Regions from separate parts of the Homo sapiens genome. Here region 2 is linked to region 1. The links come from fine-mapping of genetic effects on gene expression. A gene starts in region 1. The other region holds a variant in brackets. All regions are shown on one strand. Distances are between the middles of the regions. Region 1 holds the start of PYM1 (PYM1 exon junction complex associated factor). Region 2 has its middle 31 kb from the start of PYM1.

Region 1 (5,376 bases):
CACACATAATATATACATACTTTTGGTGGGGGTTGGAAAGGGAATGAATACATGAGGCCCTCTAGTGGAAACAGGGATATCTAAGCAGTTCTTGATTGTTTCAAGACAGGCTTGTTGGAACAGACTCCTCCACATTTGCCAGAAATATAGCTGCTGAGTAATAGGGTTTGGGAGTATTGTTGTATCCAAACTGGAGATTTCGGGCATAGGTTGAAGAGGGGTCTGTCTCTCTGCTCCTGTGCCCCTCCAAGTCTCACCCTCTCACCCCCAATCATAAAAAGACAAGGGCCAAAGGCCGGGCGCGGTGGCTCACACCTGTAATCCCAGCACTTTGGCAGGCTGAGGCAGGCGGATCACGAGATCAGGAGATTGAGACCATCCTGGCTAACACGGTGAAAACCTGTCTCTACTAAAAATACAAAAAATTAGCCGGGCGTGGTGGCACATGCCTGTAGTCCCAGTTACTCGCGAGGCTGAGGCAGGAGAATCGCTTGAACCTGGGAGGCAGAGGTTGCAGTGAGCCGAGATCATGCCACTGCACTCCAGCCTGGGTGACACGAGCAAAACTCTGTCTAAAAAAAAAAAAAAAAAAAAAAAAAAACAAGGCCCTTGACACTCCCCATCCTGTCTTTACAGTATTTTCTTCACTGTTAGCAAAGCTTCATCTCTCCTTCCTCTATGACCTCCTTAGTCATAGTAAACAAACTCTTCTGAAGGCCTTTTATACACTAAGTCCTGTACTTAGTTCTGCAATACAAGCAAAAACATAGTCCAGTTTAGGGACTATATCAATGAGTGGTGCAATGTGTGTAAAGCCTCTCTGCTCTGAGCTACTTTAAACAAACATACAATGTAAGAATAGGTCCCCTAACACCTCTGCCTATCAGTTTTCTGTCCCTGGATCTTTCATTTAGAAATCTTGGAACGATATTAATCTCTAAGGCACTCAGCTTTCCTTGCAAAGAATGCTCAAAGTAATGCCACCCTATGTATTACCTGTGTTTCTCACTCTATCGTCTTTAGATATGTCCCTAAATAAAGTTGAAGACACTCCTTTTAAGATAGTTTTTGGTACTTCAAAGTGGGGTGTAATGTTATCTCTCGAATAAGGAATAAGGTGGAATCAGTCTTACTCTAGACTTCTTTGTGTCTTCTTTAGGATCTGTGCTCCATCATACCCCAAGTCAGTTACTGGGGGGTGTGGGTGGGGGAAGAAAAGCCAAGAAACATCTAAGAAGGAGGCGTTTAATGCCTACGGTTCCAGGTGCTCATTTCTTTAATCAACCACATCATAAAAATCAGAAAGAAAGAAACCGCAATGAACAAAGGGAAAGGAAAAAACAACAGCCTGTTCTCCCCGGCCTTTTTTGCCCTGTTCCTCCTCAGGGTGGGGGGCCACATCCGGGGCCCCGGGTTGGGTCCCAGGCAGGTCTACTAAGCAGACAATTGAGTTTCACTTCCTGTCAACCCTAGTGCTGAGGCAGGATGTCTGGGGGTGGGAAGGGGGCCTAGGGTTGGTAGTGAACAGGGGCGACTTTAGGTTTCCCTCCTGCACAAAGGTCTATTGAGCAGCCTCTGAAAGCTGCAGAGACCACTCCTGAGGTAGTTCAGTCAAGACCAACGTATCCCATTAGTTCTTAGAGGCTTCATCCCACACTCTCACGTCTAATCATAACAAGGTTAAGGACAAGATGTTAGACCCTGCAGGGCTGAAGTACAATCGGTGAAAAGAGAGCAAGGGTTTAAGACCACAGTGTCACAACACTTGCAATAACAGTGTATCGTATGCAAATACTTTTTATTTATTTATTTTGAGACTGAGTCTTGCTCTATAATACAAGCTGGAGTGCAGTGGCACGATCTTGGCTCACTGCAACCTCCACCTCCCAGGTTCATTCCTCAGCCTCCCGAGTAGCTGGGATTACAGGCACTCGCCACCACACCCGGCTAATTTTTGTATTTTTAGTAGAGATGGGATTTCACCATGTTGGCCATGGCTGGTCTCGAACTCCTGACCTCAAGTGATCTGCCCACCTGGGCCTCCCAAAGTGCTGGGATTACAGGCATGAGACACCGCACCCGGCCTGGAAATACTTTTTAAATGAGCCCCACCCCCAGACATTCTGAATTGGCCTCTAGTGGAAGTCACAGACATGGAGGATGGGAAGGAAGGCAAGCTGCGGCCCCCAGAAAACTTCTGAGGCCTAATTTGTCTTATAAAGGTCCTAGTCAGCCATTGCTCAGTTTTTTAGTTTTTTTTTTTTTTTTTTTTTTTTTTTTTTGAGACGGGGTCCCACTCTGTCGTCCAAGCTGGAGTGCAGTGGAGCGATCTTGGCTCACTGCAACCTCCGCCTCCCAGATTCAAGAAATTCTCTGCCTCAGCCTCCCGAGTAGCTGAGATTACAGGCACCCGCCACCACGCCCGGCTAATTTTTTTGTATTTTTAGTAGAGACGGGGTTTCGCCATCTTGGCCAGGTTGGTCTTGAACTCCGGACCTCGTGATCCACCCGCCTTGGCCTCCCAAAGTGCTGGGATTACAGGCGTGAGCAACCGCGCCTGGGTTTTGTTTTGTTTTTTAAATGGGACATGCTGCCTAGTGTTGGAGGTAGTCACCAATACTTACCTCCTGCCTCCTCCCTGGTTCCAGGGGTACTGCTGGACATTAAACTAAGCCAAAGTGGGGATATAAGCAGGAAGGTAAAAGGGTTGATAAGGAAAAAGCTATATGAGGGTGGAGGAGGGCAGAGTTGACACCTGAGGAGAGGAACCTGCAGCCGGGCTCCTCTCAGGCTGTAGGGGAAACAAGTTTAACAGGACTTAGCCCTGAAGGAACAACAGTTGCTGAAATGGGCGGCGGAGGGAGACCATATGGGTTCGTCTGCAGAATAGGGAGGTACGGCGCAGGGCAGGACTACAAATGGAGTGACACTACGGGACCGGATTATTGGCGAGTTGCCCCGCTTTAGATCCTCAGCGGTTGGACGAGTTTAATTAGAATACTAAGTAGGTCCGCCCAGAAGCTTTCACCCTGCCCTCTGACCCTAGGGCCCAGCCCGAGGAGGCACTCAGGGTTAGGAGGTCTGGGCGAGAAGCAACTAGGGCCCTCATCACTTCGCCGCCGAATCCCCGGCGCCGCCCAGCGGGGCAGAGCCAGGCCAGGGCCGCCCGCCCAACCTGGTCCGCTGCCTCTTCGGCCATGGAAGCTGCCGGCAGCCCTGCGGCTACGGAGACAGGTGACCGACCCGCGGCGCCCTCCGCCTTGCACGCCCCTCCCGCGGGTCTCTGGTGGTTGAGTGGGTTGGCCGACAGCAATCGGCACACGAATTCGACCTCCCCACCTTCTTAGGGTTAGATAGGGTCTCCAACCGTCCCTAGAAACACTTGTGCGCCCCAGTGCGTTCCTGGAGTTTGTCTGCTCCACGTCACCAAGCCGCTCTGAGATCTGGGTGCAGGCCAGAGCCTGGATATTCTTCCTTTCTTCATTTATAAGGCCCCCTTTTTGGGTGCAGGTGGGCCTTGCGCCCTTTTCCCTCGCAGGTCCTGGACGTACGAGGAGTTCCTGGGGATGAGAGGGACTGTGCCTCGGAACTTCTCTTGGCTCCCTGAGGACTGTTTTACAGGCAGCAAGCGCTCAGTAATGGTATCGGTGGCAGTAAAAAGCCCACGGCTTTATTTTATTAACTATTTCAGCTTCTCCACTCTTCCTCCTCCTCCACCTCCGCCCATGAAATGGTGCACTCTCCCTTTAAGACTAAGATGGTGGCTTGCTACGATCGGGACTCCACTTCCGGTGGGGAGGGGGGCGGGACCCCAGCCCGCTCACGCCGGAAGTGGTTTGCGTTTTCAAGATGGCGACTCCCTATGTTACTGACGAGACCGGCGGTGAGTGCGGGAGGCGCGGAGCCGCTTCTCTCCGGGCTCTCGGGGCAGGGGTTCGGACTTGGAAAGGGGTCTGTGCCCCGCCCATCCCGGGGCCCCTCCTTTGCCCCGCCCCCCGGACCGCCTTCCCCATTCATTCTCTCCTACGGGGTGTCTCCTGCGCCCCCTTCTGGTCTCGTGTTTGGGGTCTCTGCTTCCGGTCACCCAAACCCTGGGGTCCTTCAGTGCTGGTCCCTGCTTCAGGACCCTCACGGGCCCTTAGCTTTTCTCCAGCAGTTGGACCACTCATATCTCTTTTAGGTTCTTCAGGCTTGGGGGCTTCTACACTCTCATTTCCCTCCAGTTCCTGCCCTCCTTCTTTTCCCCTCCCCCATCTCAGCTATACTTGGTTTCTGCCCTACCCCAGTCCCGTTTTCATTATTTTTCTCGAAGCTTTATTTGCTGAAGACCTCCTCGTTTCTACATAGTACCTTTTCCTCTCCCGTATCTTCATTTGTTGGGTCACTGAGGTTTAGAGGTGTGAAGGGAAGAGGACCCTAATACAACTTTCAGCTTGAGTTTTCTCCCTGATGGAGCCACCCTTCGCTACCTTCTCCCGTGATGGTGATAGAAATTGAGGGGTCTAAGGTGGGAAAAGGCAAACAGGAAAGTATCTAGTGGCTTTTCTCCGAAGCCCTTTGACAAGTGAATAAAACCCACTATTCCTTCTGGCTAGAGAAGAATTTGCAGCCTGGCTGGCCGAGATGCTGAAGTGTCTGCTGTGTATGTAAGGTGTATGTGTTGGAAACGGAGAATCACAGCTTTTATCATGGTTTTGTCCCTTCCTAATGGCCTCATCTTTAGGAAAATATGCATAGTAGTAATAGCTACTCAATGATGATCAAATAATATATGTAAAAGCAATTTATAAAATACTGTGCAAGTGCAAAGTGTTTCTGTTTTTGTAGCCCTCATATGTGTAGTCTGTAGTCTGTAGAAGCAACAGTGTGCCTGTGCCTTGGTACACACGGTGTTTTAAAATGTGCCATTTTGCTTCTTGCTCTGCTGCTTTCCATGTTCCTTACACCTCAGCCCACCTATTTTATGGTATCTGATGACAACCCAGGTTGCTGCTACTTCTCCCCAACCTCACAATTTAAAGTGGTACTACCTCTTTCCTTCTGTTCTCTACCCAGTAGCTCCTTCATGAATTACCAACTTTTAATGTGTGTTTTGAAAATACTACTTATCCAGTATACTTCTCTTTACTCTTAATCATTTTCTTTACCCTGACTCCGTGAAAATCCAGGTATCACATCTTACCTTACCTTGTCACTAAAAGCTGTTTTCTGTTTTCCGTGACTATGTGGAAGAGAAAAAGGAATAAACTGCTTTTTTGTTTTCCTTTACTATGTCCAGATCATTGATCTACCACTGTCACTCTAATCCTCATGGAAGGTATTGCCATGCAATTATAGCAGTTTCTGTAAAACTTTAGTGTCATCATTTACTGCCCA
Region 2 (5,376 bases), 31 kb after region 1:
TGCAGTGTCATGATCTCAGTTCACTTCAATGTCCACCTCCTGGGTTCAAGCGATTCTCCTGCCTCAGCCTCCTGAGTAGTTGGGATTACAGGCGTGCACCACCACGCCTGACTAATTATTTTTATTTTTATTTTTATTTTTAGTAGAGATGGGGTTTCACCATGTTGGCCAGGCTGGTCTCGAACTCCTGATCTCAGGTGATCCACCTGTCTCAACCTCCCAAAGTGCTGAGATTACAGGCGTGAGCCACTGCACCCGGCCAGAGGTATTTAATTTTTAAAAATTGTGAGTTTATGACCAAATTAGCAACACTAATTTCTGCATGTTTGCTGAGACTTCAGTAGACGAATTAGTGTTATAATCAAATGAAACTTAGAACAAATTTAACTTGACATGTTAATTTATATGTTGCCATTAGTGTGCTGAATAGCAACGGGAGTTCTGTACCTTCCTTACTGTTTCTGAAGATAATCTTATTTCACAGCTGCACCTAGGACAACTCTTTTGAAATTTCACCTTCTTAGATGCCACCCCAAGATGGCATTGTGGGGCAAATTAGTGATACATGTAGAGGAACTTACACCCAAAAGATCTGTCACTTAATTTTTACATGTCCTCTGGTTTCCATACCCTCATTTATCGCAGCCTTTTTCTCTAGCTAGCTGTGGGGGTGGAGATGAAAGGAGTGGGAAGTCAGCTGTAATGAACTATCTCAAGAGTTCAGAGTTCTTAGCCTGACTCATAAGCTCACATATAATCTGGCCCTACTTAACTCCAGCGTCATGTCTTTCCATTCTCCAACTCTGATCAAACTCATTGCTGCAGCTATACTGAACTTCTTTCAGTTCTTCAGATGAACCATATTCTGTCTGAGTCTCAGTCCTTTGCCTCTGCTTGTCCCTCTGCCTAGAACACTTCCTGACCCCCTAATGAACTTTTTTTTTAATTGATAGAAACGGGGTTTCACTATGTTACCTAGGGTGGTCTCCTGAGCTAAAGCCACCTGCCTGCTTCAGCCTCTCAAAGTGCTAGGATTACAGGCGTGAGCCACCGAGCCTGGCCCCTAATGAACTTTTTCTTAGCCTTTGGCTCTCTTAAATGTTATTCTCTCTGGGAAGCCTTCCTTTATTCATATATACACACACACACATACATATATATACACATACATATATATGTGTGTGTATATATATATACTATATATAGTGTGTATATATATGCACATATATATGTATATATACACACACACAAATAATATGTGTATATATAAATATATATATATATATATATATTTTTTTTTAGATGGAGTCTTGCTCTATTGCCCAGGCTAGAGTGCAGTGGTGCAATCTTGACTCACTGCAACCTTCGCCTCCCAGGTTCAAGCAATTCTCCTGCCTCAGCCTCCTGAGTAGCTGGGGTAACAGGCACCCAATACCATGCTCAGCTAATTTTTGTATTTGTAGTAAGAGACGAGGTTTCACCATGTTGGACAGGCTGGTCTTGAAGTCTTTTTTTTTTGAGATGGAGTCTCACCCTGTCACCCAGGCTGGAGTGCAGTGGCATGATCCTGGCTCACTGCAACCTCTGCCTCACAGGTTCAAGTGATTCTCCTGTCTCGGCCTCCTGAGTAGCTGGGATTACAGGCGTGTGCCACCACACCGGGCTAATTTTTGTATTTTTAGTAGAGACGGGGTTTCATCATGTTGGCCAGGCTGGTCTCGAACTCCTGACCTCAGGTGATCCGCCTGCCTTGTACTCTCAAATGTTAATTTATGCACCTTTATTTGCTTCCTTTTTAACTCCAAACTTACTTTTTTTTTTTTTTGAGACAGTCTTGCTCTGTCACCCAGGCTGGAGTGCAGTGGCGCGACCTCGGCTCACTGCAGCCTCTGCCTCCTGGGTTCAAGTGATTCTCCTGCCTCAGCCTCCCAAGTAGCTGGGACTACAGGCTCACGCCACCACACCCAGCCTTCTTCTTTTTTTTTTTTTTATTTTTTTTTTTGAGATGGAGTTTTGCTGTTGTTGCCCAGGCTGGAGTGCAATGGTGTGATCTCAGATCACTGCAAACTCTGCCTCCCAGGTTCAAGTGATTCTCCTGCCTCAGCCTCCCAA[G/A]TAGCTGGGATTACAGGTGTGTGCCACCATGTCTGGCTAATTTTGTATTTTTAGTAGAGACAGAGTTTCACCATGTTGGTCAGGCTGGTCTTGAATTCCTGACATCAAGCGATCCACCAGCCTTGGCATCTCAAAGTGCTGGGATTACAGGCGTGAGCCACCATTCCTGGCTTCTTTTTTTTTTTTTTTTTTTTCAGATGAAGTCTCACTCTTGTCATCAGGCTGGAGTGCAGTGGCGTGATCTCAGCTCACTGTCACCTCCACCTTCCAGGTCCAAGCGATTCTCCTATATCAGCCTCCTGAGTAGCTGGGATTATAGGCGTGCACCACCATGCTTGGCTAATTTTTTTTTTTTTTAATTTTTAGTAGATACAGGTTTTACCATATTTGCTAGGCTGGGTTTGAACTCCTGACCTCAAGTGAGTGCCCGCCTCAGCCTTCCAAAGTGCTGGGATTACAGGCGTGAGCCACTGCGCCCAGCTCAAACTTAACTTTTGTAGTAGCATTTATTTTTTATTTTTTTCTAAGATAAAGTTTTGCTTTTGTTGCCCAGGCTGGAGCACAATCTCAGCTCACCATGACCTCCGCCTCCCGGCTTCCAGCAATTCTCCTGCCTCAGCCTCCCGAGTAGCTGGAATTATAGGCATGCACCACCACGCCTGGCTGATTTTTGTATTTTTAGTAGAGACAGGGTTTCTCCACGTTGGTCAGGCTGGTCTCAAACTCCCAACCTCAGGTGATCCGCCAGCCTCAGCCCCACAAAGTGCTGGGATTACAGGCGTGAGCCTCTGTGCCCAGCCAGCCCTCCTCCTTATTAAACTATGAACTCCTCAAGCCCTGGGATTGTATTTATCATCATTGCATCCTCAGTCCCTGACATAGTACATTCTCAAATATTTGACTGAATGAGGCTGCAAGTCATGTGCAGAACAGAAGATGGGGGATAATTAGTGCCTCACGCACAGCTGAACAGTTAATGAGTACTTGACTGAGCACCCCAGTCAAGTGTGAGACCAAAAGCAGCCTGAGTTCCCTTTCATAGGATCCCTATAAAATTATAGAGATTTTATATGTGAGATTTAATTGGCTTATACAGAGATGTTTGATGCTTTGTAAATTTAGATATCTTACAGGAATCTATACTTTAAAAACCATTATTGGCCAGGCTCAGTGGCTCATGCCTGTAATCCCAGCACTTTGGGAGGCCGAGGCGGGTGGATAACCTGAGGTCAGGAGTTCGAGACCAGCCTGGCCAATGTGGTGAAACCCCCTCTTTACTAGGAAATACAAAAATTAGCCAGGTGTGGTGACACGCGCCTGTAATCCCAGCTACCCGGGAGACTGAGGGAGGAGAATTGCTTGAACTGGGAAGCAGAGCTTGCAGTAAGCCAAGTTCATGCCACTGCACTCCAGCCTGGGCAACAGAGCGAGAATCTGTCTCAAAAAAAAAAAAAAGTTAACTGTAAAACAGCCTCAGGAAGATCCTTCAGGAGATATTCTAGAAGGAGGCATTGTTATAGGAGATGACAGCACCATGTGTGTTATTGCCCCAGAAAACCTTCCAGTGGGACAAAATGTGGTGGTGGAAGACAGTGATATTGATGATCCTGATCCTGTGTAGGCCTAAGCTAATATGTCTGTTAGCTTTTGTTTTTGTTTTTGTGAGGCAGCACCTCTCTGTCATTCAAGCTGGAGTGCAGTGGTGAAAACACAGCTAAGTGCAGCCTTGACTTCTGGGCTCAAGTGATCCTTCTGCCTCAGCCTCCTATGTAGCTGGGACCATAGGCTTACTCCATCATGCTCAGTTAATTTTCTTTTTTTTTTGAGACAGAGTCTTGCTCTGTTGCCCAGGCTGGAGTGCAGTGACACGATCTAGGCTCACTGCAACCTCCACCTCCCGGGTTCAAATGATTCTCCTGCCTCAGCCTCCCCAGTAGCTGGGATTACAGGTGCACCACCATGCCTGGCTAATTTTTGTATTTTTAGTAGATACGGGGTCTCACCATGTTGTCTAGGCTGGTCTCTAACTCCTGACTTCAAGTGATCTGCCTGCATCGGCCTCCCAAAGTGCTGGGATACAGGCATGAGCCACCACTCCCGGCCTTCTTTTTTTGAGACAGGATCTCTGTCACCTAGGCTGGAGTGCAGTGGTACGATAACGGCTTACTGCAGCCTTAAATCCTTGGACTCAGGTGATCCTCCCACTTCAGCGTCCTTAGTAGCTGGGACTACAGGTATGTGCCACCACACTCCGCTAATTTTTTAAATTTTTTTCTAGAGATGGGTTCTGACTATGTTGCTCAGGCTGGTCTCAAACTCCTAGGCTCAAGCAGTCAGCCCACCTCAACTTCCGAAAGTGCTGGGATTACAGGCATGAGCCACTACGCCCAGCTCCCATGTCTTAGGGGTTTTTTTTTTGTTTGTTTGTTTTTGTTTTGTTTTGTTTTTTGAGATGGAGTCTCCCTCTGTCACCCAGGCTGTAGTGCAGTGATGCTATCTTGGCTCACTGCAACCTCTGCCTCCTGAGTTCAAGAAATTCTCCTCCCTCAGCCTCCCTGAGTAGCTGGGACTACGGCGTGTGTCACCACGCCCAATTATGTTTTTTTTTTGTATTTTTAGTGGAGACTAAAAGTTACTAAAACATTACTAAAAGTTACTGCGCCCTGTCCCATGTCTTAGTTTTTAACAAAAAAGTTTATACAATACAAATAAAATAAAAATTTTTTAAATAGAAAAAAGAGTCGGGCGTGGTGGCTCACGCCTTGTAATCCCAGCACTTTGGGAGGCCGAGGCGGGTGGATCACTTGAGATCAGGAGTTCAAGACCAGCCTGGCCAACATGGTGAAACCCGGTCTCTACTAAAAATACAAAAAAATTAGCTGGGCACTGTGGTGTGTGCCTGTAATCCCAGCTACTCAGGAGGCTGAGGCAGGAAAATTGCTTGAACCCAGGAGGCAGAGGTTGCAGTGATCCGAGATCACGCCACTGCACTCCAGCTTGGGTAACAGAGCAAGACACCATCTCAAAATAAATAAGTAAATAAATAAAAATAGAAAAAAGCTTATAGAATAAGGATATAAAGAAATATTTTTGTACGGCTGTACAATGTGTTTCTGTTTTAAGCTAAGTGTTTTTTACAAAAGAGTCAAAAAGTTAACAAAAAATTTAAAAGTTTGTAAAGTAAAAACATCAGTTGGGTGTAGTGGCTCACGCCCGTAATCCCAACACTTTGGGAGGCCGAGGTGGGTTTATCACTTGATGCCA

The links. PIP is the estimated chance that this variant, and not a neighbour inherited with it, causes the effect. A credible set is the group of variants that fine-mapping cannot tell apart.
Region 2: its variant is the best candidate, but not a certain one, in a credible set for the expression of PYM1 in testis (GTEx, PIP 0.86).

What each region holds. Positions count from the first base shown.
Region 1 is chr12:55,925,583-55,930,958 of GRCh38, reverse strand. It overlaps PYM1 (PYM1 exon junction complex associated factor), which reads left to right and starts at 3,065. Exons shown (of 3, transcript NM_032345.3): 1 at 3,065-3,234. The coding sequence starts at 3,198. It also overlaps a transcript of DGKA not described here. RefSeq lists enhancers at 2,794-3,374, 3,454-3,623, 3,664-3,883, 3,375-3,955 and a silencer at 3,974-4,123.
Region 2 is chr12:55,894,566-55,899,941 of GRCh38, reverse strand. No RefSeq gene overlaps it. Among named protein-coding and RNA genes, the nearest start is that of PYM1, 31 kb to the left of the region's middle. The variant G/A (reference allele first, on the strand shown) is at 2,113.